Homo sapiens: one gene and its partners. The protein of the gene in region 1 interacts with the protein of each later gene in a pairwise test. Each region holds a gene or a part of one and is shown in the gene's direction. Other genes may lie near its edges.

Evidence for each region.
Region 2: the proteins of KPNA4 (region 1) and PLAA interact in binary tests that used the Homo sapiens proteins (3 or more experiments, as listed by UniProt).
Region 3: the proteins of KPNA4 (region 1) and FAM50B interact in binary tests that used the Homo sapiens proteins (3 or more experiments, as listed by UniProt).
Region 4: the proteins of KPNA4 (region 1) and MAT2B interact in binary tests that used the Homo sapiens proteins (3 or more experiments, as listed by UniProt).

What each region holds. Positions count from the first base shown.
Region 1 is NC_000003.12:160,520,572-160,527,571, reverse strand, and holds part of KPNA4 (importin subunit alpha-3), read left to right. Parts: intron 1-1,464; coding exon 1,465-1,634; intron 1,635-1,727; coding exon 1,728-1,772; intron 1,773-5,661; coding exon 5,662-5,793; intron 5,794-7,000. UniProt on the Homo sapiens protein: Functions in nuclear protein import as an adapter protein for nuclear receptor KPNB1. Binds specifically and directly to substrates containing either a simple or bipartite NLS motif.
Region 2 is NC_000009.12:26,902,852-26,909,258, reverse strand, and holds the end of PLAA (phospholipase A-2-activating protein), read left to right. Parts: intron 1-1,260; coding exon 1,261-1,425; intron 1,426-3,182; coding exon 3,183-3,748; 3' UTR 3,749-5,887; downstream 5,888-6,407. UniProt on the Homo sapiens protein: Plays a role in protein ubiquitination, sorting and degradation through its association with VCP. Involved in ubiquitin-mediated membrane proteins trafficking to late endosomes in an ESCRT-dependent manner, and hence plays a role in synaptic vesicle recycling.
Region 3 is NC_000006.12:3,844,634-3,851,832, forward strand, and holds FAM50B (protein FAM50B), read left to right. Parts: upstream 1-4,739; 5' UTR 4,740-4,853; intron 4,854-5,155; 5' UTR 5,156-5,178; coding exon 5,179-6,156; 3' UTR 6,157-6,684; downstream 6,685-7,199.
Region 4 is NC_000005.10:163,500,639-163,508,623, forward strand, and holds the start of MAT2B (methionine adenosyltransferase 2 subunit beta), read left to right. Parts: upstream 1-4,980; 5' UTR 4,981-5,048; coding exon 5,049-5,111; intron 5,112-7,985.

The sequences.
Region 1 (7,000 bases):
TAAACCAATAATTTTTCTCCGTAATGACAGTTCTGAGAAGAGTCTAAAATGAAATTTTTTCTCTCTTGCAGACTTCAGTACATTAGAATTTAGTAATGTATAAAATATAGTAATATTATTTCCTGTCACCATGAATCAACAAGACATAACCATAGCCTTTTGACAGTCTGGTTAAATATTTAACACTGTGATTACTATAACTTTCAGGTTCTCTCTGATAAATAATTGTAAGGAAAATAAAGACAATTCTGATATTTCAAGGATTTGTTTTTTTAACTAGAGCCTAAACTCAAAAATTCAAAGAACTATTCTCCAGTAAAGGATGGAAAAAATCTGAATTGTATTGTGCCCCAGTATAGCTCAGAGACCTAACAGTTATGAGTGGGGGCTGAGGTACTGTTTGTAGGGGTATTGCTAATCTAGTGAAGGAGAATGATTCTAAAGATTATTTTTGCCAAATTCTTTATTCTTGCATGGAAATAATCATTGTTGCTTTGATATGCCATCTCTTTATTGCCCTTATACAGGGCCAACATGAAAGTAAAGAGTGGTTATGAGTTTTTAAGGGAGAATTTCTCTGTAAACCATTCTTGACATTGGGTTTATACTATTAGGAATGCTATTGTTTCTATATCCAGACTCCCTCACTCTTTTGCTTTTATACCAAATGTTAGATTTAGAGCTATTATACAGCATCTTGATCTTTCATTTTTTTATTCCAGTGACATTCCGTAATTAACATGAATATAAAGATGCAAAAAGAACAAACATTTTATCTCCAGATATTATAGTGCAAGGGAAGGTGCTTTCACTTATGGTAACATTTCAACATGGCTTCATATTAGAAACTGCAGTGATGCTTCAGATACAGAAATTAAACTTGGCAGTTCTCTGCAGCAGTGGTTCTCAAACCTTAGCATGCAATCAGGACTACATGGGGTGCTTGTTAAAACACAGAATTCCAAACCCATAGAGTTTCTGCTTCAGGAGGCCTGAGCTAGAGCCCAATAATCACATTGAGAACCACTATTCTAGCACTGGTTCACCCTTTTCTTCTGACATAGTTTTCTAAGTGTATAGAGTAATTTATAGTTCATAACCTTGATGCTCTGATACGGGATCATAAGTACAAATTCAACAAATATTTTCTTGATACATCTTTTTTATCACATGAAAGTTTGTTAAACCAAGAGTATTGTTGAGAGAGAAGTTAAAAGCAGCAGTTTAATTAAGTGAGCAGCAAAATGCTGAAGATGGGAATAATGTGCAAAAGAATACCTTATCACTTTATGTTGCCTCTCTTGGCTCAGAGACCTTGAATGTGAGCCTGCTTGTTATTGTCTAAAACTGAACAGTGTATCTGGATAAAATACATGAAGCAGCATATTCCCAGTGCTTTGTGTTTTCTGAAAATGCTTACTGTCAGTATGTTTTATTGAGTAAATTAATCCTTTTTTTCTACAGGTGATGGGCCCCAGTGTAGAGATTATGTCATAAGTCTTGGAGTTGTGAAACCTTTACTTTCCTTCATAAGTCCATCTATTCCTATAACATTCTTAAGAAATGTTACTTGGGTTATGGTCAACTTATGTCGCCACAAAGACCCACCACCACCAATGGAAACCATTCAGGAGGTAAACACTTTTAAAAAAAAATTAAAAGAGATACCATTATATATATATTTTTTATTTGTGTATGTTTTTAAATCTACATATTTCTCTCCTCAGATTCTTCCAGCCCTTTGTGTTTTAATTCATCACACAGATGTAAATGTGAGTAAATGTGTCCTATTATATATTTATGTATGTATGTATGTATTTCTAGGGCTTCCCCTGTGACATAGGGGAGAAATATTATACTAACACATTGTGTCAGCATACTATCAGATTTTCCCATTTCAAGAGTTATTTTATATTAGATTAGTTATTTTATAATATTTTAATATTTACTCTATGTTTATCTATATCACAAAATATAATACCAGTTAAGAAATCAAGCATAACTGTTATTTTGGTGTGGACAATATTGTATGTATGTGTATATATTAGTGTTATAAAAACTGACATTAAAAGTTTTTAAAGTTGCCAGATAGTGGTGATTTCTCTTACTAAGATCATGTCTTTAATTGTTCTTGTGCTTTTTACAGAAGGTCATTTTGACAGTTTGGCCAATGAAAGCACACACAAATAGTGCTATTTTTGTTTTTTGAAAGATGAAAAAGGAAAATGTTTGTGCATGGATTTGTATTCATATACACATACCAAACCATGGACATCAATTGCCCTTTAATTCCATTTTTATTCTATTTCTCAGTTACAGTGACTGGCAGTGGCTTCATTTATCAAGATAACTTGATTATCCAAACAACAGGAAAAAAAAATCAGTGCAGGCAAGATTTTAAACATAGCAAATATATTTTGCTTATTTTTACTAACACAGATGGCAGAGGAAAAAGCAACTCAGGGAGTATGAATGAGGTGGAAAACTGCCCTGAGTGCTTGTAAAAGCCAGACCAGCCTTTGGTGTGTTAGAGAAACCAGGAATATAATGGGTAAGGGAAAACACATGAATGAAATGTTTAGCAACAATCAGGAACTCATGTGGTTCTTTAAAAACAGTTTGGCATGGTGACCAGTGTTGGACAAGCTGCTTCATTTCTTTACAATTTAAAGGCCTATGCCTTTTGGCCAGAATTTAATTTGTATGGAACAAATTAAAATTAGAATTTTACTGTATCAAACAGTGACATAATATATAAAATTCATTAGATGAACATGATCTCTGTGGTAGAGTTTTTGTTTGTTTTTAGCCCCAGATAGTTTAGGATCTTAAAAAATGTGTAAGTAATTTTTGGTTTTGGCTCCTTAATAGCCAAGTTCTTTGATTAAATTGTGAATTTCAATATTTTGCTTTGAAAGATTTACAAGAGGCCAGGTGTGGTGGCTTATGCCTATTGTCCCAGCACTTTAGGAGGCTGAGGCAGGAGGATCACTTGAGTGCAGGAGTTCGAGACCAGCCTGGGCAACATGACGAAACCCTGTCTCTATGAAAAATACCAAAAAATTAGCCAGGCATAGTGATGTGCACCTGTAGTCTCAGCTACTCAGTGGCTGAGGCAGGAGGATCTCCTGAGCTGGGGAGGTCAAGGCTGCAGTGAACTGTGATCATGTCACTGCACTGCAGCCTGAGTGACAGAGCAAGACCCTGTCTCAAAAATAAATAAATAAATAAATAAATAAAACGATTGGCAAGAAAGATTTAACTTCAAAGTTTATACCTCTACTAGAAAACAAGACATCTTGGTTGACTTTATTTAGAGATAGATTGTGTTCTTTCCACCTATTTACTCCAATCTAGATGAGACTGTGACTCCATTTTCTTGCCTTTGATGTATCTTGAAGAATTTCTCAAGCCTGTTTACATTGTTCTTTTTAGTAACATGATTAACAAATAATATTGCTTACTAAATAATGTGTTAGAAGTTTGATTTGAATTATGATTTTGATCTGAGCATATTAGTGACATGTCCTTTAAAAACATGTATCTAGCTTTTATATACAGTTATGAGCAAGTAACTTGAAATTTTTGGCCTATGTCAACAAATTTTAGCATATGTTAATATTCCAGAAAAGAAACTCAGTTACATTTGCAAATTGAAATTTAGGTTTTTTCACATATATTGATACCATTTTTTTATGTGAATTCTTTTTTTTTTCTTTTTGAGACAGAGTCTCGCACTGTTTCCCAGGCTGGAGTGCAGTGGCATGATCTCCACTCACTGCAACCTCTGCCTCCTGGGTTCCAGCGATTCTCCTGCCTCAGCCTCCCGAGTAGCTGGGTTTACAGATGCCCGCCACCACGCCTGGCTAATTTTTTTGCATTTTTTAGTGGAGACAGGGTTTCACTATGTTGGCCAGGCTGGTCTTGAACTCTTGACCTCGTGATCCACCCACCTTGGCCCCCCAAAGTGCTGGGATTGCAGGCGTGAGCCACCACACCCAGCCTGTGCGAACTCTCATTTGATGTCTTCTTTTTACATTAGAAATATCCTTAGAGCTTTCTTGAATTTCCTAAGAAACAATGGCAAAGCATTATTTTCACCTTTTAGGAGTTTCGGGGTGTCTTTTTGGTTTTTTTTATCTTATTTTTTTATTTTCTCTTGGGTGTCCTAAGCATAACATTAGTTTACAGTTTTACGATTTTTTTAAAGTCAGGGTCATAAAAACAAGAAAAAATAAACAATGCCGAATTGTTTCTGTTTTTCATAGAGACGGGGTTTCACCGTGTTGCCCAGGCTGGTCTGTAACTCCTGGGCTCAAGCAGTCCACCTGCCTTGGTCTCCCAAAGTGCTGGGGTTACAGGCGTGAGCCACTACTCCCTGCCTAGTTTATTGTTTTAAAGGTTTTACACTTCTCCAGCTTGTCTTGACACAGAGTTCATATTCTGGAAAGGCTTTGGAAGTAGTTTTAGGCACAATTATTATTCCCATGTCTTTGTCAATAATTTGTGTATTTATTTGCAGCAGTTACAGTTGTTTGTCATACTGCCCTTTGGTCATAACTTCTAATTAGGACCTAACGTACTAGGAAAGATCAAACACATGGCCTGTTGTACTTAAAGATGTAATCGTTAAAAAAAATGGTAGGCTACTTAGTAGAAGTTGATTACACAGGCTTTTTTTTTTTTTTCATAAGTAGCAGCTGTAGTGAAGTACGTATTTTTTGTTTTAATTACAGGTCTCACAGATTGACCTATGATTATTTTAATGTCTTGATCTGCAGCTGTAGGGGACTTCCACTATTTAAGAAGTTGCTGGCCGGGCGCAGTGGCTTACGCCTGTAATCCCAGCACTTTGGGAGGCCGAGGCGGGCGGATCATGAGGTCAGGAGATCGAGACCATCTTGGCTAACACGGTGAAACCCCGTCTCTACTGAAAAATGCCAAAACTTAGCCAGGCGTTGCGGCATGCGCCTGTAGTCCCAGCTACTCGGGAGGCTGAGGCAGGAGAATGGCATGAACCCGGGAGGCGGAGCTTGCAGTGAACCGAGATCGCGCTGCTGCACTCCAGCCTGGGCGACAGAGCGAGACTCCGTCTCAAAAAAAAAAAAAAGTTGTCTCCAGTTCTGTAAGGCAAAACAAACTGGTTGGAAAAGATTAAAGTATTTTATACTACAATATGAATACTTGGGTTATTGGCTTTAGGCATATCTACATGGTACTTACAATACTAGAGAACTCCTTGAATATATTCATCTAGCCCAGATGTTTTGAACAACTGTGCATGTTGGATACATGTAGTCTTTCCAGCTTTATACATGAGCCACAATGTTTTTGGACCTGTTATCCCTCAGCCTTTGGGAAAGAGAATGTCTTTTTCTCCTGTTTTATGAGCTGTGTAGTGTGCGTGTGTATCTTAGTGAACTAAGATTGGATACTAATCTGGGATCAGAATCCTGAATATGGCTAAAAGATGTACGTCTTAGTACAGACATTTATAGATGATGATGTTTAATACCGTAGCGATCAGATTCCAATGAATTAAACTGAGAGAAGAAAAGAAGGAAGAAGGTAGTTGAACAATTTTAGAATGGTTGTTTGGTCAAGAATTACTAAAATGAGAAAATATTTAAAAGTTGTTTGAATTTTTATTTTATTCATTAGATACTGGTAGACACAGTCTGGGCCCTCTCTTACCTTACTGATGCTGGCAATGAACAAATACAGATGGTAATAGACTCTGGAATAGTTCCTCATTTGGTTCCTCTGCTCAGCCACCAGGAAGTTAAAGTTCAGGTAAGTTTGTTCTTAGTTAAATTATAAGTATTTCTTACCACTAATTGCTTTAAGCATGGCATTCAAAGATGGACAATTTCAGTAGTTTAAAGTATATTCTTAGCATAACAACAAATCTGTGATGGAAAGGGGAAAATAAATAATAAGATGCCATTGTAGATTACTAATTTCTTTTTTTAAGATGGGGTCTCACTGTCACCCAGGCTGGAGTGAGGTGGCGTGATCTCAGCTCACTACAACCTCCACTTCCTAGGTTCAAGGAACATTCTCCCACCTCAGCCTCTTGAGTGGTTGGGATCACAGGCACACACCATCATGTGTAGCTAATTTTTTTCTATTTTTGATACAGTCAGGGTTTTGCCATGTTGGCCAGGCTGCTCTTGAACTCCTGGCCTCAAATGATCCTTCCACCCCAGCCTCCCAAAGTGCTGAGATTACAGGTGTGAACCACCATGCCTGGCCGGATTACTGATTTTTAATGTAGACCAGGGAAGTTCATTATAGCAACATGCATGGCATCTGAAACAAGTATTGACAGACACTTATTTTTTCCTACTCCTCTTCTTTTTGTTCTTCCTCTTTCACTTCCCTACTTCTTTTTTTTTCTTCCTTGCCAACCATCCTTATTTACTCACCTGGCAAGTTTAGTTAACTCTTATCTTCATTGGTGCTGAAATAAGGGTACTCTACTGAAATGTGCTGTTTAGGGACTTTCTAAATTGTTGCTTTTCACTTATTTAAATTTATTTTTTATTGTTTAAATTCTTTCACATAATATTTATCCCAAAGAATTTGCATTTAGAAAGAGCCAAAAACAGAGTGTGAGAAGTTCTCAGAGATATAAGCAGTAGCTGTTAAGCTACAGTTGTAATGGGGGAGACGCAGCAAGCTCCCTCTACCTTTCTGAGGTAAATAGTATATTTTAATCTGCTAATGGCTTAGAATCTGTAAAGTACAATAATCGCATAAGAGAAACCGTTAGTCTGTAGCCTAAGTCATTATGCCTGAACATCAAAATAAACTGTGTGGAGCTGTTTTTAATTTCTCCTGCTCAACCCCTGGAGATTTCTGTTTCAGAAAATATTTCTTAGAAACTTGAGCTTTAAAATGCTCTTCAGGTGATACTGATACATAGTCAGATTAGAGACCCTGTACCTTAAAATTAAAGCACTTTAAAGAAGGAACACTTAGCTAAATACAGAAAGAA
Region 2 (6,407 bases), on another chromosome or scaffold:
TAAAGCTGTTAATACCTGAGATTAGTGAAACAGGCCCTAGTTTCCATTTATAATTGATTTCAATGGTGTAAATTTGGATAATTTTCCTTATTATCGGAATTTGGACTTTTTTATTCTTGAGATAAAGATTTTTAAAGAAACACAGTAACTCAAAGTCATGATACAAAGGATACTGATACTAAAGATACATGCGAAGGATTTGAAGGAAATTGTTTCATGAAATGAGAACATGGGAAGAAAGGGCAGTATGTCCATTAAATAAATTTTTAAAATAATGTGACATCAAATATGCATATGGAACTAAGTCATAAATTAAATGTTATCAGTAGGCATTTAACTCTTTGACTATTTCATTGACAGCTGTAGAATTTGACATAAATTGGCTAAAAAGTTGTTATAAATTTTCTCATGGAGAAACTAGGTTATTGACTTACACTTGAATATATATTACACATGATACTGCTTTGAAAGTCATCCAAAATGGAGGCCGGACGTGGTGGCTCATGCCTGTAATGCCAGCACTTTGGGAGTTCAAGGCAGGTGGGTCACTTGAGGTCAGGAGTTTTTCACCATGTTGGTCAGCCTGGCCAACATGGTGAAACCCCATCTCTACTAAAAATACAAAAATTAGCTGGTGTGGTGGTGCATGCTGGTAGTTCCAGCTACTCGGGAGGCTGAGGCAGGAGAATCGCTTGAAAATCCTGATGGCGGAGGTTGCAGTGAGCCGAGATCATGCCACTGCACTCCAGCCTGGGCAACAGAGTGAGACTCCATCTCAAAATAATAATAATAAGGCCAGGCGTGGTGGCTCACACCTGTAATCACAGCACTTCGGGAGGCTAAGGAGGGTGGACCACGAGGTCAGGAGATTGAGACCATCCTGGCTAATGTGGTGAAACCCCGTCTCTACTAAAAACACAAAAAATTAGCCAGGCATGGTGGCAGGCGCCTATAGTCCCAGCTACTCAGGAGGCTGAGGCAGGAGAATTGCTTGAACCTGGGGGGCGAGCTTGCAGTGAGCCAAGATGGCGCCACTGCACTCCAGCCTGGGCGACTGAGCAGGACTCCATCTCAAAAAAAAAAAAAAAAAAGACAAAGCTCATAAGCCTTATCCTTACTTTATGGTGTTTGATAATTGCTGAGTAAAGTCTTAACTCCCCATGGTGTACACTAGAGTACTTTTATTGAAAGTCTTGGCATTTATATATTATCTGGCCAATTACAGTTAGAGAATTTTGAAAGTTTGGTTTTGGGTTCTAGGTAAACTGAAGGAACTTAATGGAACTGCACCTGAAGAGAAGAAGTTAACTGAGGATGACTTGATACTTCTTGAGAAGATACTGTCTCTAATATGTAATAGTTCTTCAGAAAAACCCACAGTCCAGCAACTTCAGATTTTGTGGAAAGCTATTAACTGTCCTGAAGGTAAATAAACACTCTTCAAAAATGTAACCAGAAAGCAAGAAGTTTTATCTTCATTTCTATCAATATTACTGGTATTTGTGGATTAAATGAAAGTTAACTTCGGTAGTTCTAAATCACTATGGAAAATCTTCACGAAAAGGGTTCACTACACTACTGGAATTGATGATCTTGTTTCCGTTACATGCCTTTTGAGAATCTGAAGGTAATATATGATCCCCATATATGCACCAGTTTGTTTTTTTGTTGTTGTTGTTTGTTTTCTTTGTTTTTTTGTTTTGTTTTGTTTTTGTTTTTGAAATGGAGTCTTGCTCTGTCGCCCAGGCTGGAGTGCAGTGGCGTGATCTCGGCTCACTGCAAGCTCACTGCAAGCTCCGCCTCCCGGGTTCACGCCGTTCTCCTGCCTCAGCCTCCTTAGTAGCTGGGACTATAGGCACCCGCCACCATGCCCGGCTAATTTTTTGTATTTTTAGTAGAGACGGGGTTTCACCACGTTAGCCAGGATGGTCTCAATCTCCTGACCTCGTGATCCTCCCGCCTCAGCCTGGGATTACAGGCGTGAGCCACCGCGCCCGGGCATGCACCTGTTTGTTTACTGTTTCAGAGCATTTGTGGATTCCTGGCCAGGCATCCAAGATACTCTTAGTGACCTGTTAACCCTAGGCTACAAATATTTACTGTAAGTTTTTTTTTTTCCAATTATGTCAGTTAAGTCTTTTTTAATTCTCAAAGAGTCCTTGCCTGTTATTTTTTTTTATGCCACTGATTTATTGGAGAAAAAGTCTTTTTTTTTTTTTTTTCAATAAAATGTCCCATATTATGGATTTTGCTGATGTGTTCCTCCATCTCTGTATTTATTGCTAGTGGCAAAATTAGATTCTGGTTCAGTAGGTGTTTTTTTTTTAGGTGAAATCCTTTATAAATGATGATGCATACTACTTTTACATTACGGAGCACATAATGTTGGATTTCCTCACCTTTAGTGATGCTAAGATTATTTTGTGCATTCATTCAGATGGCATCTACCCAGGCCCTTGATTATAAAGCTCCCACCAACCTATAAGCATCCTATCACTTGTTAACTGGAATTCTTCTCTTAAGAACTTTCCGGCTGGGCACGGTGGCTCATGCCTGTAATCCCAGCACTTTGGGAGACCAACTTGGGTAGATCACCTGAAGTCAGGAGTTTGAGACCAGCCTGACCAATATGATGAAACCTCGTCTCTACTAACAATACAAAAATTAGCTGGGCGTGGTGACGTGCACCTGTAATTCCAGCTACTTGGGAGGCTGAGACAGGAGAATTGCTTGAACCCGGGAGGTGGAGGTTGCAGTGAGCCGAGATCATGCCATTGCAATCCAGCCTGGGCAACAGGAGTGAAACTGTCTCAAAAAAAAAAAAAAAAAAAAAAAGAACTTTCCCTGTTTAATTGTTCGGTCTTACAGAATTTTTTAAAAGCAAAGTCTGCACCCCATTCTTTCCATTCATTTTTGAATACTCACAGTGTGTAGGCTGTTTGAGAGAGTTACCTTATTTTTAAAGCGAATATGATCTTACAGCAATAAATCTAGTTTATATAAATATGAAAAATTAACAAAAGTTTCAGAAATATATGCATTTTTTTTAAAGCAGACACATGATTTTTCACATTTTCTAAAATGGTTAGTTTTGCAGTGGGAAAATAAAATCCTTCAAAGTCGATAGTCAAAAGAAATTTTCTTTATTTTCATAAGCATTAATGACTTTTTTTTTTTAATAGATATTGTCTTTCCTGCACTTGACATTCTTCGGTTGTCAATTAAACACCCCAGTGTGAATGAGAACTTCTGCAATGAAAAGGAAGGGGCTCAGTTCAGCAGTCATCTTATCAATCTTCTGAACCCTAAAGGAAAGCCAGCAAACCAGCTGCTTGCTCTCAGGACTTTTTGCAATTGTTTTGTTGGCCAGGCAGGACAAAAACTCATGATGTCCCAGAGGGAATCACTGATGTCCCATGCAATAGAACTGAAATCAGGGAGCAATAAGAACATTCACATTGCTCTGGCTACATTGGCCCTGAACTATTCTGTTTGTTTTCATAAAGACCATAACATTGAAGGGAAAGCCCAATGTTTGTCACTAATTAGCACAATCTTGGAAGTAGTACAAGACCTAGAAGCCACTTTTAGACTTCTTGTGGCTCTTGGAACACTTATCAGTGATGATTCAAATGCTGTACAATTAGCCAAGTCTTTAGGTGTTGATTCTCAAATAAAAAAGTATTCCTCAGTATCAGAACCAGCTAAAGTAAGTGAATGCTGTAGATTTATCCTAAATTTGCTGTAGCAGTGGGGAAGAGGGACGGATATTTTTAATTGATTAGTGTTTTTTTCCTCACATTTGACATGACTGATAACAGATAATTAAAAAAAGAGAATACGGTGGATTAAGTAAAATTTTACATCTTGTAAAGTGGTGGGGAGGGGAAACAGAAATAAAATTTTTGCACTGCTGAACTGTGAGATTTTCCTGTGTAATTTGGGTAGATTTTCAAGAGTGTGAACACAAATTTAAAATAAGCTATAATCAGCAACAACACAATGACAATGACATCTTCCCCTTACCTTAGCCACTAAGAAGACAAGGGCTGTTACTCATATAACTTGCTTTTATTACTTAATGTACACCAAACTGTTGTTGTCAATTATCTTTTATTTAACTTCTCCACCTTCATTGCTAGATCCTTCGAACAGCACTGATACATTTCAAGGTCTTGTTTTAGGATAACTACTTTAAAATTTTTTAAATTATATTAAATTTATAAAATAATTTATAAATTCATATATTAAAACAATATAAGATAATTTCTTGATTTGTCATTTATAAATCCTAAAGTATATTTGTTTAATGGCCTATTTTTAGATGAAGAAAAAGCCAGTTGGTAAGCTGTGTTAGTCATGTATCAGTTCAGACAGACGAGGTCTCAATTTAACTCCAGGCTTAGATCCAGTTTCTTTTGCCCTTCACTATTTGAGGTAACTTCATTTTTCATTCTAGTTTTGATATTTGGCTGTTTATTTTTGTCATTTTCCATTATTTCAAAGGGAATTTGGAACATGTTGAATTTTATCAGGTGGTTACATAAGCAAGAGTACATCAAACTGTATTATTTGAAAGTCTAGAACCTGTCATGTGAAATTACTATTTTTGAGCCCTCTATGTGGTCCAGGCAGAATAGTAGACACACTGATATTTAATCCTTAAAACCCCTTTAAATGAGGGCCAGTATTATCTCTGCTTTCAGAAGTAGACATAATAGGATGAATCATATAACAGAAAAAAAAAAGTGAAGCCAAGAGGGAGTTAACTACTTAAAGTACATGCTATGCTATACTTTCTAGAGAGATCACAGATGTGTGTGAACATCCTAGCAATTAACACAAAGAAGGAACCATCACATTAATTACACAATTTATTGTGTCTGAGGTAACCCAGTTTCTTGAGAGAAGCGTAACTATTTTCAAAAGTGGGAAAGATCTTTTCATAAAGACGTTGCCAGAAATAGCAACATTCTCAATACTCGTGGTGTAAAAACCATGAATCCCCTGGCTTAATGCCAAATTATAGCCTTAGAAGAATAATTGTTCCCCAAATGGGCAAGAAAGGTTCTAATTGTCAAGAGTAACCCAAGTAAGAACTTTTGGAATATCAAAAGGAAATGAGCAAAATGTAAATAGAGGGGATATGTACTTTGCTGAGTATTAAATTGGAACTACCTGGTGTGTACCTGGACTAAATATTCTGTTCACTGGCTCAGTTGAGTACCTATACTTTTCGTTTTTTGATTGGGTTTAGGTGGTTATGTCAAAGTTAAATGGCAAAATTAGGAATTTAACCCAGGTCTGGCTGGTTCCTTTACAATACACTGCTTTCTTAAGTACAAATAATTTAATTGCAATATTTAGGAAAAGTAGGTACCTTTGAATAATGATAAGAAACAGTCTTGGTTAAGAATATGAGTTCCCTCTTCAAAATGTAAGGGGTGGCAAAATGTAAACACTGCTTCCTATTACTGTGCAAGTTTTTTTATGTCAACTTTACTATTTCATGTTTGTTGTGGAGATTACAAAATATAGCTTAGCAAAAGGAAACAATCTCACTTGAAGGATATGTTAAATAATTTAATGATATTTTAAAGATTTTCTTTTTTAGTTAAACTTTCCTATGATTCTCTTAATGTTTTTTCTGAATACAAAAGTAATAAATATTTATTGAGTAAAACACACACACCCCAAATAAAAATTGCCTGTAAGGCCACTATCTAGAGAAAACTATTCTTAACATCTTGTGGCATAGTGACTATGTATGTAAATGTATTTTATTTTATTAAAAAAGCGTTGTATCATACATACTCTTTGATAACCTGATTTTTAAACTTATATTTGGTACAAAGAGCTCCACATTAATAAATACAATATTCTATCATATGGATATACCCATTTCTTATTAACTGGCACTGTTTCCAATTTTCAGCTATCAAGCAATGGTAATGACAAATCTCACAAGAGTCTTACTAGTTCCCTAGGAACATTTTATACATGGAATTGGTAGATGAAGATAGTGTACATTGTTTAGACTGTTTACATTGCCATCGCACCTCTAGTGGTACAACTCTTGGAATTAATGTACTTCATATTGCATTTGAAACCCCATTGCCTACAAAAGAGTTAAGTTATTATTGTCTCCATTTCATAACTATTATCTTCTCTCTGGCATTAGGTTCCTTTAGATGAGTATGTTACTGTTTATATGACTAGCTGAATTTATAACTAAATAGCAATGCAATGAAATTTATTATCTACCTCATAATCTTAAGTGATGGAAGAAGCATAGGTAAAAATGGATTCTTTACATAGATAATTCTGGGGATAAGAGTAGGAGGTAGGTTCCTCAGCAGTTATCACTTTGTATGTTATGGTTATTTTTTTTTTTTTTTTTTGAGACG
Region 3 (7,199 bases), on another chromosome or scaffold:
CCAGCCGGCGGAGGTTGCAGTGGGCCGAGATCGCACCATTGCACTACTCCAGCCTGGAAGACAGAGCCAGACTCCGTCTCAAAAACAAAAACAGAAAAAAAAACTTAAATGGAAAAAAAGTCATCAAATGGGATGCAAAGTTTGATTAAAATTGCTAAATATATACAGATCTATGTGCACATAAAATATTGGAAGGGAACTTGCAAACATTAATAGTTATGTTACTTATGTGTTCATGTTGAGTGAACTTTTTATTTATTTACATTTCTTTTCAAACTTTTCTGTAATATGCCTATTTCCTCCTTTATGACAAAACCTATTGGAAAAACAAACCATAATGTCTCAATCAGGGAAGAATAACTAGAACAATCATTCTTTTTTGTTCTATTTATTCTTCTTTCTTAAAGTTTCACCATTTGCGTGGGCTCGGGTCCTCAGCCTCATTTTGCTGATAAAATTTAAGAGCTTAAAGCAGTAGCTTTTAGTTTTGTGGGTATTTTCGCTGAGAATTAAGGCTGAAAGAGGAAGTTATCATCTTGGAACTTAGGGGAAAATTCTACAGAACAGTATATCAGACTTTTAGGATAAATCTCCTTCTTTCTAGTTGTTTTTCTTGTTAAACTTTTCTGAGAATTTGAGGCTCAACCTTTTAATTCTGGGAGCTGGCTATAGTATTTGGAGGCCGTGACTGAGTTCAGGAGGTGGATGCTGGATAATGGGAGGGTGGATGATAAGGTTTAGGGATGATATTGACATTCAAGTTCTGATTCGATTAGAGAAAGAGTGAATATAGTATTTGTGGCCAAACGATAGTCGATTGAATTAAAGTTTAGTTGGTTGGATCATTTAACTGAAAAAAAGAGGTGGAGAGGCTATCTTATTTATGTTAAGTGTAATAAAGGTAATTATATGGGAAACCTGAGAGAGGAGACTATTGGTAATTTTGTCCATCTGTGGGTGGTGATGGTGATGGTGGGTGCTCCAGGCTTCCTCTTGGAGATGACATTTGTGCTGATCTTCAGGGATAGCACAGCGAAGGGCAGGACTTTCTAGAAAGAGTACGTCCAGAGGTAACAGTTATGAAAGGGCAACTTTTTTTTTAGATGAAGTCTTTCTGGGTCACCAGGCTGGAGTGCAGTGGTGCGATCTTGGCTCACTGCAACCTCCATCTCCTGGGTTGAAGCAATTCTTCTGCCTCAGCCTCCCGAGCAGCTGGGACTACAAGGCATGCACCACCACACCCAGCTAATTTTTTTTATTTTTATTTTTATTAGAGACGGGGTTTCACCATGTTGGCCAGGATGGTCTCGATCTCTTGACCTCGTGATCCACCCGCCTCGGCCTCCCAAAGTGCTGGGATTACAGGTGTGAGCCACTGCGCCTGGCCTGAAAGGGCATCTTCTATTCAGGCGCAGTGAAAAAGCTGGGTGAATGCTGCAGGGGTCCACCTATTAGAGACCTTAGAGGACAAACAAAGAGATTCTGATGTGGCTGTTACAAGGGAAGTTGGAGTTTTTCAAGTAGGAGAGTAATGTTATCAGATTCATTTTTTATGAAGATCTCTGAGGATATTGTATAGAAGTTAGACAAGAACAAGAATACAGGCATACCTCGGAGATACTGTGGGTTCAGTTCCAGACCACCACAAAGACAGTCACACAAATTTTTAAATTTTCTAGTGCATATAAAAGTTATGTTTATACTATACTATAGTCTAGTAAGTGTGCAGTAGCATTTTGTCTAAGAAAATAATGTGCATAATTTCATTAAAAATACTTAATTGCTAAATAATGCTAATGATCCTCTGAGCATTCAGTGAGCTGTGCTCTATTTGCTGGTGGAGGGTCTTGCCTCAGTGTTGATGGTTGCTGACTGATCAGGGTGGTGGTTGCCAAAGGCTGGGCCTGTGGCAGTTTCTTAAATCAATATTGAGTTTGTCACATTGATTGATTCTACCTTTCACGAAAGATTTCTTTGTAACATGTAATGCTGTTTGAATCAACTTCTTCCAAACTTCTGTTAATGTTGATATTTTACCTCCTCCCAAAAACTGTGAATGTCCTTCATGGCACCTACAGTGGTGAATGCCTTCCAGAAAAATTTCAATTTACTTTGCCCAGATCCATCAGAGAAATCATTACATACAGCAGCTATAACCTTTGGAAATGTATTTCTTAAATAATAAGACTTAAAAGTCAAAATTACTCCTTGATCTATGGGTTGCAGAATGGATGTTGTGTTAGCAAGCATGAAATCAACTTTAATCTCCTTGAGCATCTCCATCAAGCTCTTAGGTGACCAAGTGCATTGTTAATGAGTAATAATATCTTGAAAGGAATAATCAGAGCAGTAAGTCTCAACACTGGGCTTAAAAATATTCAGTAAACCATGCTGTAAACAGATGTGCTGTCCTCCAGGTTTTGTTGTTCCATTTACAGAGCACAGGCACAGTAGATTTAGCATAATTTTTAAGGGCACTAAGATTTTCAGAATGGTAAGTGAGCATTGGCTTCAACTGAAAGTCTCCAGCTACACTAGCCCCTAGCAAGAGAGTCAACCTGTCCTTTGAAGCCATGAAGCCAGGCATTGACTTCTCCTCTCTAGATATAAAAGTCCTAAATGGCATCTTCTTCCAATAGAAGGCTATTTTGTCTACATTGAAAATGTATTGTTTAGGGTAGCCTCCGTCATCAGTGCTCTTAGCTAGATCTTCTGGATAACCTGCTGCAGCTTCTCCATCACACTTGCTGCTTCACCTTGCACTTTATGTTATAGAGGTGACTTCCTTCCTCAGCCTCATGAACCAACCTCTGCTACCTTCAGACTTTTCTTCTGAAGCTTCCTCACCTCTCTCAGCTTCACAGAATTGAAGAGACTTAGGGCCTTGCCCTGGATTAGGCTTTGGTTTAAGGGAATGTCGTGGCTGGTTTGATCTTCTATCCAGACCACTAGAACTTTCTCCATATAAGCAATAAGGCTGTTTTGCTTTCTTATCATTCATATGTTTACCAGGAAAGCGCTTTCAGTTTCATTCAAGATTTTTTTCCTTTGCATTCACAACTTAGCTAACTGTTTGGCAAAAGAGGCCTAGCTTTTGGCCTATCCTGGCTTTTGACATACTTTCCTCACTGAGCTGAATCATTTCTAGCCTTTGATTTAAAGTGAGAGACGTGTGACACTTCTTTTCACTTGAACACTTAGAGGCCATTGTAGGGTTATTAATTGGCCTAATTTCAATATTGCTGTGTCTCAGGCACTAGGGAAGCCTAGGGACAGGAAGAGAGATGAAGGAACAGCCAGTCAGTGGAGCAGTCAGAACATACATAACATTTATCAGTTAAATCAATAAACGTCTTTGTCTTCTACTGCACACTTCGGAGTGCCCCCAAACAATTACAATAACCTCACAGAACGATGATCACAGATCACCATAGCAGATATCACAATGAAAAAGTCTGAAATATTGCAAGAATTACCAAAATGTGACACAGGAACACGAAGTGAGCACATGCTGCTGGAAAAATGGAGCCAGTAGGCGCTTGACGCTGTGTTGCCACAAATCTTCAATTTGTAAAAACAAAAACAAAACACACAGTATCCCAGAGCTCAATAAAATAAGATATTCTTGTATTCTGGTGATGGGGCAACAATGAGAAGGCTTTAGATTAAAAAAAATGCTAATTTCCTAGATTAAGGCAAGTGGTGGGGAATGGGAGAAAAAGGAAAGTGTGAAAGGCTCTTCTGTAATTGATTACCTGTGGAGGAACGTCATTCCAGGAAAAGGCCTAGGTTTCTGGCTTGGACAATTTGATGAGGGCTCACACCGTGCTGTTCTCCTCTGGATATGTGGGTGCCATATGTAATTATCATATGATTCACGCTTCTTGGTAAGGTTATGCTCACAGGCATTGTTGCTCTTAGGCGGGAGGAGGCTGAACCGCAGTATGTATTTCACAACCAGCTTTTCCAAACTAGGTCCCAGGAAGCACTGGTTTCGGCGAGTGTTACCAGATCTCCTGCAGGGGAGAAACGGTCACGAAACATGAACTGGTCTGCCCTGCTCTTGGAGAGTTACAGTGGAAACTGGCATGTTAGAGGCTCACAGTAAAGACACTGCTACACTTTAACTCAGTGTCCCATGGTTATTAGAGCTTAGAACCCGGGGGAAACTGCTGTATAGAAGAGGTCAAACAAGCTGAGTGCAGGTTTTGTCACGAAACTGGGGGGCGAGTAGGGTTCTATTATCAAAGAATGGTTGTGTTGGGGCCATAAGAAAGAATTACAGGCAGTGGTGCGCAGGTAATGTTCACGAGACGCCACAGCGGGGTAGCATCAGAGGCGGGAGGAGGAGGGTTGGAGAGCAGGGCCGTGTTGCAAGGCTCTCTGGGTGGCCACAGCAGCTTGCGCTGCGCCCACATTGCTTCTGCGTGTTTACAGTTGGGCACGAGAAGGCTCAGCACGCACGCACAGCAGGTGGGGGCCCGCCCTGCCCACAGCGTGAAAACAGGAGCCCCGGCCAGCCACGGCTGGGCAGGGCCAGAAGCGCCTCCTCCAGGATCCTCCCCGCGCTGGCCCGCCCCACAGGAGCACCGCCCCTACCAGGAGCCCGGAGCTCTTCCCAGGGCCCGCCTCCCCGCCAGGGGGCGATCCACCTCCACTTCCTGTTTCCGCAGCCGCCCTACCAGGAGCCTGGCACTCTCCTCAGGGCCCGCCTCCCCGCCAGGGGGCGCACCGCCTCCACTTCCTGTGTCCACGGCTGTCGCGAGAGCCCGGGGCGAGTGGGCCTCTGCTCGTGGGTGGTTCTCGTGGAGGTCAGCTCCCGCGTGTCTCCGCTCGACAGGGTGCTTGGGCAGGTAAGGGTCCGCTCAGTAGCCCAACCCTCTCTGTATGCAGCTCCCCAAATTCAGCGCTGCGCTCAGGCATGGCAGCCACCCGTTACGTGGGGCCGTTCGCATTTGCATTTATTGAGGTCAAATAAAATGCTGGAAATTGGTGCCTGGTGACACTGTCAGGTTGGTGGTTACCCTAGCAGGTCGGCCCAGCCCCTGAACGCTTCCATCACTGCCGAAAGCCCTGTGAGGAGGCGCAGAGCTGAGCATTCCCCGCCGTTGCGTGGGCCCCCCTCTACCTGCCGCGTTTTTCCTCTTTGCTGCAGAGCCCATCGGGTAGGCGCGGGCCATGGCGCAGTACAAGGGCACCATGCGCGAGGCAGGCCGTGCCATGCACCTCCTCAAGAAGCGCGAAAGGCAGCGGGAGCAGATGGAGGTGCTGAAGCAGCGCATCGCCGAGGAGACCATCCTCAAGTCGCAGGTGGACAAGAGGTTCTCGGCGCATTACGACGCCGTGGAGGCCGAGCTGAAGTCCAGCACGGTGGGCCTGGTGACCCTGAACGACATGAAGGCCCGGCAGGAGGCCCTGGTCAGGGAGCGCGAGCGGCAGCTGGCCAAGCGCCAGCACCTGGAGGAGCAGCGGCTGCAGCAGGAGCGGCAGCGGGAGCAGGAGCAGCGGCGCGAGCGCAAGCGTAAGATCTCCTGCCTGTCCTTTGCACTAGACGACCTCGATGACCAGGCCGACGCGGCCGAGGCCAGGCGCGCCGGAAACCTGGGCAAGAACCCCGACGTGGACACCAGCTTCCTGCCAGACCGCGACCGCGAGGAGGAGGAGAACCGGCTCCGAGAGGAGCTGCGCCAAGAGTGGGAGGCGCAGCGCGAGAAAGTGAAGGACGAGGAGATGGAGGTCACCTTCAGCTACTGGGACGGCTCGGGCCACCGGCGCACGGTGCGGGTGCGCAAGGGCAACACGGTGCAGCAGTTCCTGAAGAAGGCGCTGCAGGGGCTGCGCAAGGACTTCCTGGAGCTGCGCTCCGCCGGCGTGGAGCAGCTCATGTTCATCAAGGAGGACCTCATCCTGCCGCACTACCACACCTTCTACGACTTCATCATCGCCAGGGCGAGGGGCAAGAGCGGGCCGCTCTTCAGCTTCGATGTGCACGATGACGTGCGCCTGCTCAGCGACGCCACCATGGAGAAGGACGAGTCGCACGCGGGCAAGGTGGTGCTGCGCAGCTGGTACGAGAAGAACAAGCACATCTTCCCCGCCAGCCGCTGGGAGGCCTATGACCCCGAGAAGAAGTGGGACAAGTACACCATCCGCTAACACCCGCCTGCCAGAGCGGAAACCGGGGGTGGGGGGAGACACTCATTTCTAGGCCCCATCACCAGTCACTTGATTTCGTGACCTTGATTTCTTCCCCCAAATTTAATAAAGACAGAGGGTTCTCATGATTCACATTGGTTGTGCTATTGCTGATGTTATGCTTTGGTTGCTTGGTTGGTCTTTTCTGAGTATTTTAGTGTTGCCACCTGGATTTGCTGCATTGCTCTGCTGAGCTGTATTGAAACCATGACTGGGCCCACTGTCAGACAGAAATTAGAATAGGAGGCACATTTTTTACCTGGTGGTTATGAGCATGGACTTGGGGGCCACAGTGACTGAGTTTGATTCCCGACACAGCCTCCTCCTTGCTGTGTAGTTTTGGGTAAGCTTATTAAACCCCCATGCCTCAGTTTGGTCACCTGTAAAAGGAAATAACAAGAGCACTTACTTTATAAGATTGATGTGAGTATTAAGTGAATTAATATTTGTAAAACGCTTAGCTCTTAATAAATGTTTCTGTTGTTATTATTATGGTTTTGGTTAATTTATTTAAAGGACTGCAATGACCTAGTTCAGAACCATTTGAGGGCAAAGGTGGACCTGCCCATCACTGGTCCCAGGATCAGCAGTTGCCAGCAGGAGGGGGCTAGCAAAGGTTGGGGAGCAGCCCCCCTCTAGTGGGCTTTAGCTGGGTTGTTTAGCCCAGAAGTTAGGAGGACAGTGAGCTAATGCAAGTAGCCTGCAGGGTCAGTATCATTGATTTTCCTTTTGCTCCAATATGACTCCACAGGGCACAGTTACAGATCCTGTCTTCATTGAAAATGTTTGTATTTTATTCATTGTGGATTATTTCTGTTAATTTTGATTTTTAAAAATACTGTATTCAGGCTGGGTGTGGTGGCTCGTGCTTGTAATCCTAGCACTTTGGGAGGCCGAGGTGGGTGGATCACCTGAGGCCAAGAGTTCGGGACCAGCCTGGCCAACATAGTGAAACCCTGTCTCTACTAAAAATACAAAAATGTGCCTGTAATCCCAGTTACTTG
Region 4 (7,985 bases), on another chromosome or scaffold:
TTTATTTTATTTTATTTTCTTCCTTTTTTTTTCTTATTGTTCTTATTTCTCTGAGGCATACATGTAACCTTATAAAAACTGCCAGTTTTCTAAAGTGGTTGTATCATTTTATACTCCCTCTAGCAATAAAAGAGCATTCTAGTCATTCAAAATGCTTGTTAGTGAAGGAGTTGAGAATATACTACTCCAAAATATGCCACACTGGCATTTTGACTATTTTAAGTTAAATATGCTTAAAAAACAGCAGGCACAAGAAGATCACCGTGACCTTTCTTCTGTTTCTTAAAAGCAGATGAAATTCTCACATGAATGATGCCCTCCCGTACCAGAAGTAAAGTAACATTCCTATCACCAAAGACAGGAAGTTAATGCCAAGATAATTCTGTACCAACCTTATTAAAATAACTGATCTTCTAGCCTCAAAAATTTACTTTTTCACAATTTAGTATTCTGTCTAATTTGGTATTTAATTGCAACTCTAACTCCATCTTTGGGTCTTCACTTCCTTTGGAAGGGCCCATGCCACATTAAGTTTGTATAAAATAGTCTTGTATGTTGATCTACCTTAATTTAATTCTTAAGTCTAGCCAGAAAACCCTGAAAAGGTGGAAGTAAAATTTGCCTCCCTTATATTATCATTTGATGCTTTCAGTCTTTAACTTTGGCCATTCTGTTAGGTATGTAATGGTATCTTGATGTGGTTTTAATTTGCTTCTCTAATGTTGAGCATCTTTTTATGTACTTATCGGCTATTCTTATATCTTCCTTTTTAAAGTGTTGTCTGAACTGGGCGCTGTGGCTCATGCCTGTAATCCCAGCACCTTGGTAGGCTGAGGCAGGCGGATCACTTGAGGTCAGGAGTTCGAGACCAGCCTGACCAACATGGTGAAACACCGTCTATACTAAAAATACAAAAATTAGCCGGGTGTGGTGGCATACACCTGTAATCCTAGCTACTCAGGAGGCTGAGGAAGGAGAATTGCTTGAACCCGGGAGGCGGAGGTTGCAGTGAGCCGAGATCATGTCACTACATTCCAGCCTGGGCAGCAGAGCGAGAGTCCGTCTTAAAAATAATAAATAAGGGCCGGGCGCGGTGGCTCACGCCTGTAATCCCAGCACTTTGGGAGGCCGAGGCGGGTGGATCATGAGGTCAGGAGATCGAGACCATCCTGGCTAACAAGGTGAAACCCCGTCTCTACTAAAAATACAAAAAATTAGCCGGGCGCGGCGGCGGGCGCCTGTAGTCCCAGCTACTCGGGAAGCTGAGGCAGGAGAATGGCGTGAACCCGGGAAGCGGAGCTTGCAGTGAGCCGAGATTGCGCCACTGCAGTCCGCAGTCCGGCCTGGGCAACAGAGCGAGACTCCGTCTCAAAAAAGAAAAAAAAAAAAAAATAATAATAATAATAATAAATAAATAGCGTTGTATGGCAGATGCACCTGACAGCAATAACTTTAAGCATACCCTGAGAATACCCTGTGGTCTAAGAAGAATGTGTGCTTGGAGCTAAGGAATCCGGGAATGGCCAAGGCGAATATTCACTCCTTATCTGTGGAGCTGCTTGGGAGGCTGAGGCTGTAGAATTACGTGGGGCCCAGGAGTTCGAGGCTGCAGTGAGCTGTGATGGCACCACTGCTCTCCAACGTGGGTGACAGAGGGAGACCCTGTCTTGAAATAATAAAAATAAATAAATTATGCCCAGTTAGCCACTTGGGATCCATCTTGAAGGACTGGCTTTTTCAGGTTCACATTTGTTCACAAATGCAAACACACACACAACAATTCCTCATAATTTATATTAATAGATTTCTCTGAATGCCTCTTAGAGTTTACCATGCGCTGTGTGCTCTAAATGAATGTAACATTAAAAGTCAGATGATTTTTTTAGTTCAATTTGAATGGCAATTTTTGATGTTCTTAAATTGGTACAGAGCCATAATTCAGAATAGCGGTGCAAAGCTCACTGAGCACGTTCATGACCCTTGAAAGTCTTCGAAAACAGATTACTGGGCTTCGCTCCCAGAGAATGATTTCGTTTCTTAGGTTCTGTGGTGCAGGCAGGTTTGGAAATCACTTATCTAGAAGTCCTTAATGCTTTGTGAAACTTAAGGCCGCTCACTCCATCTACCATTTTCTCAGAGGGCAGCATAGTATTAATGGAAATGACCCGTTGCATTTTACTTCTTGCGTGCTGTTACCACCACTGCCTTTTACTCTCCTTTGAAATAATTAAAAGCACTGGGAAGGGAAAGCACTGGAGAATTTTACTAAACATAATCTGTTGCAATAAGGTGTAACTAAATAAAATGATAGAAAACTGTGCCTTTTAGAACAGGAATCAACTGCATGATCTGTGTGCTTTCCAAAAGTGTGGCTCACTCTTCTTTTGCAAAAGAAAACTACAAGGAATCTTGACAGGAAGTTGTTGGGTTTTTGTTTTTGTTTTTGTTAAGTAGTTAGTTCTACCAAATAGTTTTGCAAATAGACCCAGGCTTGACTGGCAATTAAACATGAAACTTCTCATTGGGTATTTTCGAGACTACTACGGGGAATCAGCTACCAGCTTACTGCCATGTGGAGAACTGCACGAGATTCCGGGATTGGAATCAAAATGCTAATTTAAAAGGTCAAGTGAAGCTGCTCCTCACGTTTTGGCGTGCCTGCGCTCTCTGCAGGCAGAAGCGAACAAAGACCCAGCAAGAGAAGGCAGAGGCTAAGACCCATCCCGTATCTGCTCTCCTGAAATAATTCTGGAGTCATGCCTGAAATGCCAGAGGACATGGAGCAGGTAAGAACTAGCAATTCAAGAAATGAAGCATTCTAGAGTAAGAGATGCTTTAAAAGCATTCCAGTGAACGCCTGCTAAAACCAGAATTGTTGTGTAAAGAAAATAGAAACGGGTGTCATTCATTTCCTTAAAACATAACCTCGGGACATGGAAGAATAAGCCAACTTTAGTTACTGACCCGGAGAACCAGGTTATGAAGGGCTCAGCTAAGTCTCACTAGCTGACAATACAGAATTGCACTTTCATTTACCATTTTAAATGCAATTATGTATATAAAGTTTCTACATAAATAAGGATTTTATCTGTAGTGTGTTCCTTTCCAGATGTTCTTTGTCTTTGTATGAATTGAATCTGCTAACATAACTTTTAGTTTCAGGCTGCTCTCTTTAAATGTATAGACTTAGCCACCACACGAAGTTGTATATTGTCTATGTTAAGAATGGCGTTTGATTCGCATAGACCCTACCATCATTAAAGAAAATGATTAAAAACCATATCCAAACATATGCCCCTAGAACTGTACCCAACTTTTACGGGGAAAGTATCAAGTCAGATTTTCAAAAGCAGCCAAGTTAAATTCTTTCTGTTCCTCAAGACTAGGCTGCTCTGAGAATCAGAATGCTAATTGCATATGCTTGCCCTTAAACCTGCTTCACGTTGAAGAATGAAGAATTAATTTTCTTTTCTCCCATAGAAAGGTAAGATTACATCACGTGTTGCGACTAGAAACTTTAAACCGAATTCCCAGTTAAGAGAAAAAGTAGTAAGATGATCTTGGCTGCTCCCCCGGCCCTCTTCCCGCCCTCTTCTTTGTTGTCCCCTGATTATGCTTGTTTAGCGCTGGGGCAGTCCTCAAGGATTCCCTAAATAAAGCCAAACTAATGAACAGTAATAGCCTGTGTTTAAAAAAAAAAAAAATCGGAACATAAGAAACCTCAGGCTGTCTTCGATTACTGTTCTAGAGAAACTTTATGTTTACACGAATAAGGAAATGAGTTTTTGTTGGGGGTTGAGGAGGAAGGAAAGTCATGGTGTTCTGACGTGGAAAACTTCTTTAAAAGGCTGCTTAGTCTTTAGTTTGAAAATAAACCAAAAAGGTTTAGGAGTCGGGGAAAGGCCCTAGGAAAATCCAGACAGTGGTCACGTTTGTGGACGACGTTTAGAGCTTGCTATCCTGGGCACACAAGAACCCTTGGACTGTTCGGTGCAAAGTTGGCAAATCCTACACGGCCTGTGCCAGGGTTTACTTTCTGCATCAATTTCACAGGCGTCCAGCCTGGCTGAGGATTTTTTGCGGTTTTTAACTGGAAGGGAAATAAGTCGGCATCAGCACTTAGGGCTGCTTAACTTTTAAAAGGTGGTAGAACGCCCAGCCTTACACGCTGCTGCTTAAATTCTCGGTGCTCACCAAGGCTGGGCTCGTGTGGCCCAATCCTGCAATCCCCGAGGCGGTGTTTCTTAAAGAGTGGGCTTGATTCTGGTTAAACCCATTAAGAAGTCGGACCCCGGGCTCGTTTCTTGTTCTGTAATTATGGGTAAAGTCCAAGGATCTGCGTTTTGAAGAGGTACCTAAGTAGTTCATCTTCCTTCCCCCTACAACTTTTTATTTTTAATTAGTTAAAAATAGTTTTACATTTTTGATATCTCACACACAGGTTTTTTCTTTTTTTAAGCATCCCAGGAAGACAAATGGCTCAGACGCCAACCCTTTTATTTTTATTCCTTGTCTTTTTCTAAATCTTTCAAAACCCCCACCTAGAGCTCTAGAGATGTGTCCATTATGCTCTACCCACCTCCGCCCCCGCCCCCATGACTTTAAAATGCTTTTTATTCCACTTTTTATATTGCTCAGTCGATCCTCATGCACTGCGCAGTCTGCAAACTTGAAACTCAAGGCGATCCACTTCAATCTTTTCCCGAGTCAAGAAAAAAAGGAAAAAAAGTAGAATAAAAAGCACTCAAATAAAATCTCCGAAACAAAACCTGAATTCACTGCCTAAGGTCAGGGCCTTTCTTTTGTGTGTCGCTTTAAGCATCGGCGCGTGGGCTGGGGGCAGACCGCGCGTACCCGCCCTCTTTCTGGGGCGTCGGCGGAGCGTGGCCAATCAACGGGCGCGGCTATGGCAGCGGAAGCCGGAAGCGGCGAGCGGGGTCGTTCTGGGCCTAGGGGAGGCGGGCCGAGGGCGTCTGAGCTGAGGCCCGCGTCGATCCTGGGTTGGAGGAGGTGGCGGCCGCTGAGGCTGCGGCGTGAAGACGGCGGGCATGGTGGGGCGGGAGAAAGAGCTCTCTATACACTTTGTTCCCGGGAGCTGTCGGCTGGTGGAGGTGAGGGAGTCGGCCTGGGCGTCTCCGGTGGGAGCGGGGGCGCCGAGGGGGACGAGCCACCGGGGCTCGGGCGGCTTTGCAGGCGTATTCCGCCCGGGTCAGAGCCTCCGGCCGGGAGTGGTCTCACCGCCACCCTCCCAGCCCCGGATCCGAGGGGGGCGCCACCGAGTTTGTTTATCTCAGCGCACACGGGTCAGTGTTTTTTTCTTCCAGCCACTGCGGCAGGAAGCAAGTAGGTGGAGGTTTTACTTTCGAGTTCTGTCTCTGCTCCTGAGGACGAAGAGGTTTTTCAGAATTGTTTGTTTTGATTTTGGTTTTCCCCGTTTATTCATCTTTGGTTCGTATTTCTCGATCTTACAAGTTCGTAGGTTTGAGAAAGAACAGGAAAAGGTGACTTCTCACAAATAACAGTGCTGGAGATGACAACTTATTGAACTCTTAAGTTCTCAGCACTATGTTATGCACTTGACGGGCATTACTTTAATCCTCCACTGTGAGATACTTGTTATTGCCTCATTTTGTAGACGAGAAAACGGGCATAGAGGGTGAGACATTGGCCCAGGTTCATTCCGTAAGGTTGGAGCCTGGAATTCAGATACAGGTTTGTGTGACTGTCTTGGGCTTTGAACCACTACGGAGTTTCCCTGAAGGAAGATTATGGTGATGATTGGAAGATCCATCTCTGGTGCCCCCCTCGCCCCCGTCCCATCCTGCTCCATTCCACTTAAGGGCCTCCAGCATTAATCTGTCCACAGAACATATCCAACCCTGGGGATAAGAACACTACTAATGCCCAGACCATGTCTTTTGGAGAGAGTAGAGAATATAGGAGATGGCTGTTTCTGTTATTGCAAAGTTTTCATGCTTCCAAATTTACTTAGGGTTTTCAAATCACTTTGGTTCTTTGAGGGTAAAGTTAGGATAAATGGTCTATTAAACCTCTATGTTCCTAGGTCCTCCAGACCGTGCTGAGTGCATGTTACATACGTTTACATTTATATGTATGCATTTGTATGTGTACGTGTGCATATAAAGCTTAATCTACTTTCACAAAAAGAAGTTCAGTATAAAAATGAAAATAGCTTTTCGTGTTTTCCTTCATTAAAAATGAAACAACGAAGAGCTTGGCACAGACTTACTGCTCTCAAAACCTGTAGAATTAAAGCTTACTGACTCATGAGAACGAGAACTGTCTCATAGTTAACGTTAGAGAAGCATCCTGGAGTGGTTGTTGTTAGTAATACTGTCTGTGGAGCACAGTAGCGTCGCAGTAGAAGTTAGACCAATCCCACCTAAGTAGTCAGAGAATCTTAAAAAGTAAAGCCCAGTAATGTTTACCTTAAGGGTCTGTTTCTGGGGAATTAAAAAATTAAACATGGAACTGTGCCAAGTTTTAAAGTTTCCAAAAACGACAAGGTATTTACCACTGAAATTTGGGAAAACCACATACTAATAGTATTCCATTCTTTACTTTTCTAGAACATTTTTAGTAGACATTAATGCAGGTGTGCTAAAGTAGAAATCACTGTCCCAGAGTACTGTGTTGGACCATTTGGAAGGAGCCATGTATCTCCCATTACCTATACAATTTGGTATCATTCGATTAGATACGATAATAAGAATATTTATTTATATGTACTTAATTTTTCAAGAAATGTTTTTTTGGTGTCCATAAATCTGGTCCCTTGGAGTGATTGAATTCCGTACTTCAGAGTTTAGACAATAAGAGGCAGATACGTTTAGAGTAACTTAAACTGATATTAGATCTACTTTCCCCCATATAATAAAAATTGAGAAAAAGTAGACTTCAGGCAAAGTATTATCAACTCTTTATTGTGCCTTGAGTGAACTAGATAGCATTTTATTCTTTCATTCTGACTTTCTTAAAGTGTTTAGACATTTCTTCCTTGTGCACAACTAAAATAATTTATGGAGTGCAGGTCCAAAGTAGTTTTTAGAGGGATATTTCTTTTTCTAAAGAACGAACCAAAAAGCCTCAACAAAACAGTGTAAAAGGCAGAGTATTGCTTATATAGAAGCTCAAAAACAGAGATATTTGTTTGGCATATTTTAAATTTCGGAGTAATGCATATTCAGAGGAAAAGTTACCTTATTTAAGTAAACGAAACTATTCGGACTCCTCGTGGTAGGGATAATATGGAAAATGTTAGAAATATAGAACTTTAAAGCTGAAAGAGCCTTAGTCATTTTGTCTAAATGCCTTCCCCATTTACCAATGAGGAATTAGATCAATAGAGATAGAATAACTTCTAAACACCAATTTGTGGCAGAACAGATAAAACTTTAATCATTCATGAAACCAAATATTAGTTCACAGGATTGAGACAAAATGCAGTGTATTTGACTTGACCAGAGAAGCAAGACTCAGGTTCTGGTTCCAGCTTTTTCTCTTTTACTATAGACAAAACATTTAACACTGGACTTCTTGTTACTCTCTTTGGAAATAATATCTCTTCTAACAAGCTGCTGGGTTTTTTTGTTTTCTTTTTTTTCCTCTTGCTCTTTCACCCCGTCTGAAGTGCAGTGGCTCAATCTCTGCTCACTGCAACCTCTGCCTCCAGGGTTCAAGCGATTCTCCTGCCTCAGCCTCCCAAGTAGCTGAGATTATAGGCGCCCACCACCATGCCCGACTAGTTTTTCTATTTTTGGTAGAGACAGCGTTTCACCATGTTGGCCAGGCTGGTTTTGAACCCCTGACCTCAAGTGGTTGGTCCACCTTGGCCTCCCAAAGTGCTGGGATTACAGGCGTGAGCCCTGGCACCCGGCCTCAAACTGCTATTAAAAAAACAAAAACAGCTATGATTGTATACTTATATAACACGTTAGTTTTCTTTTTTTTGGTTTTTTTGTTTG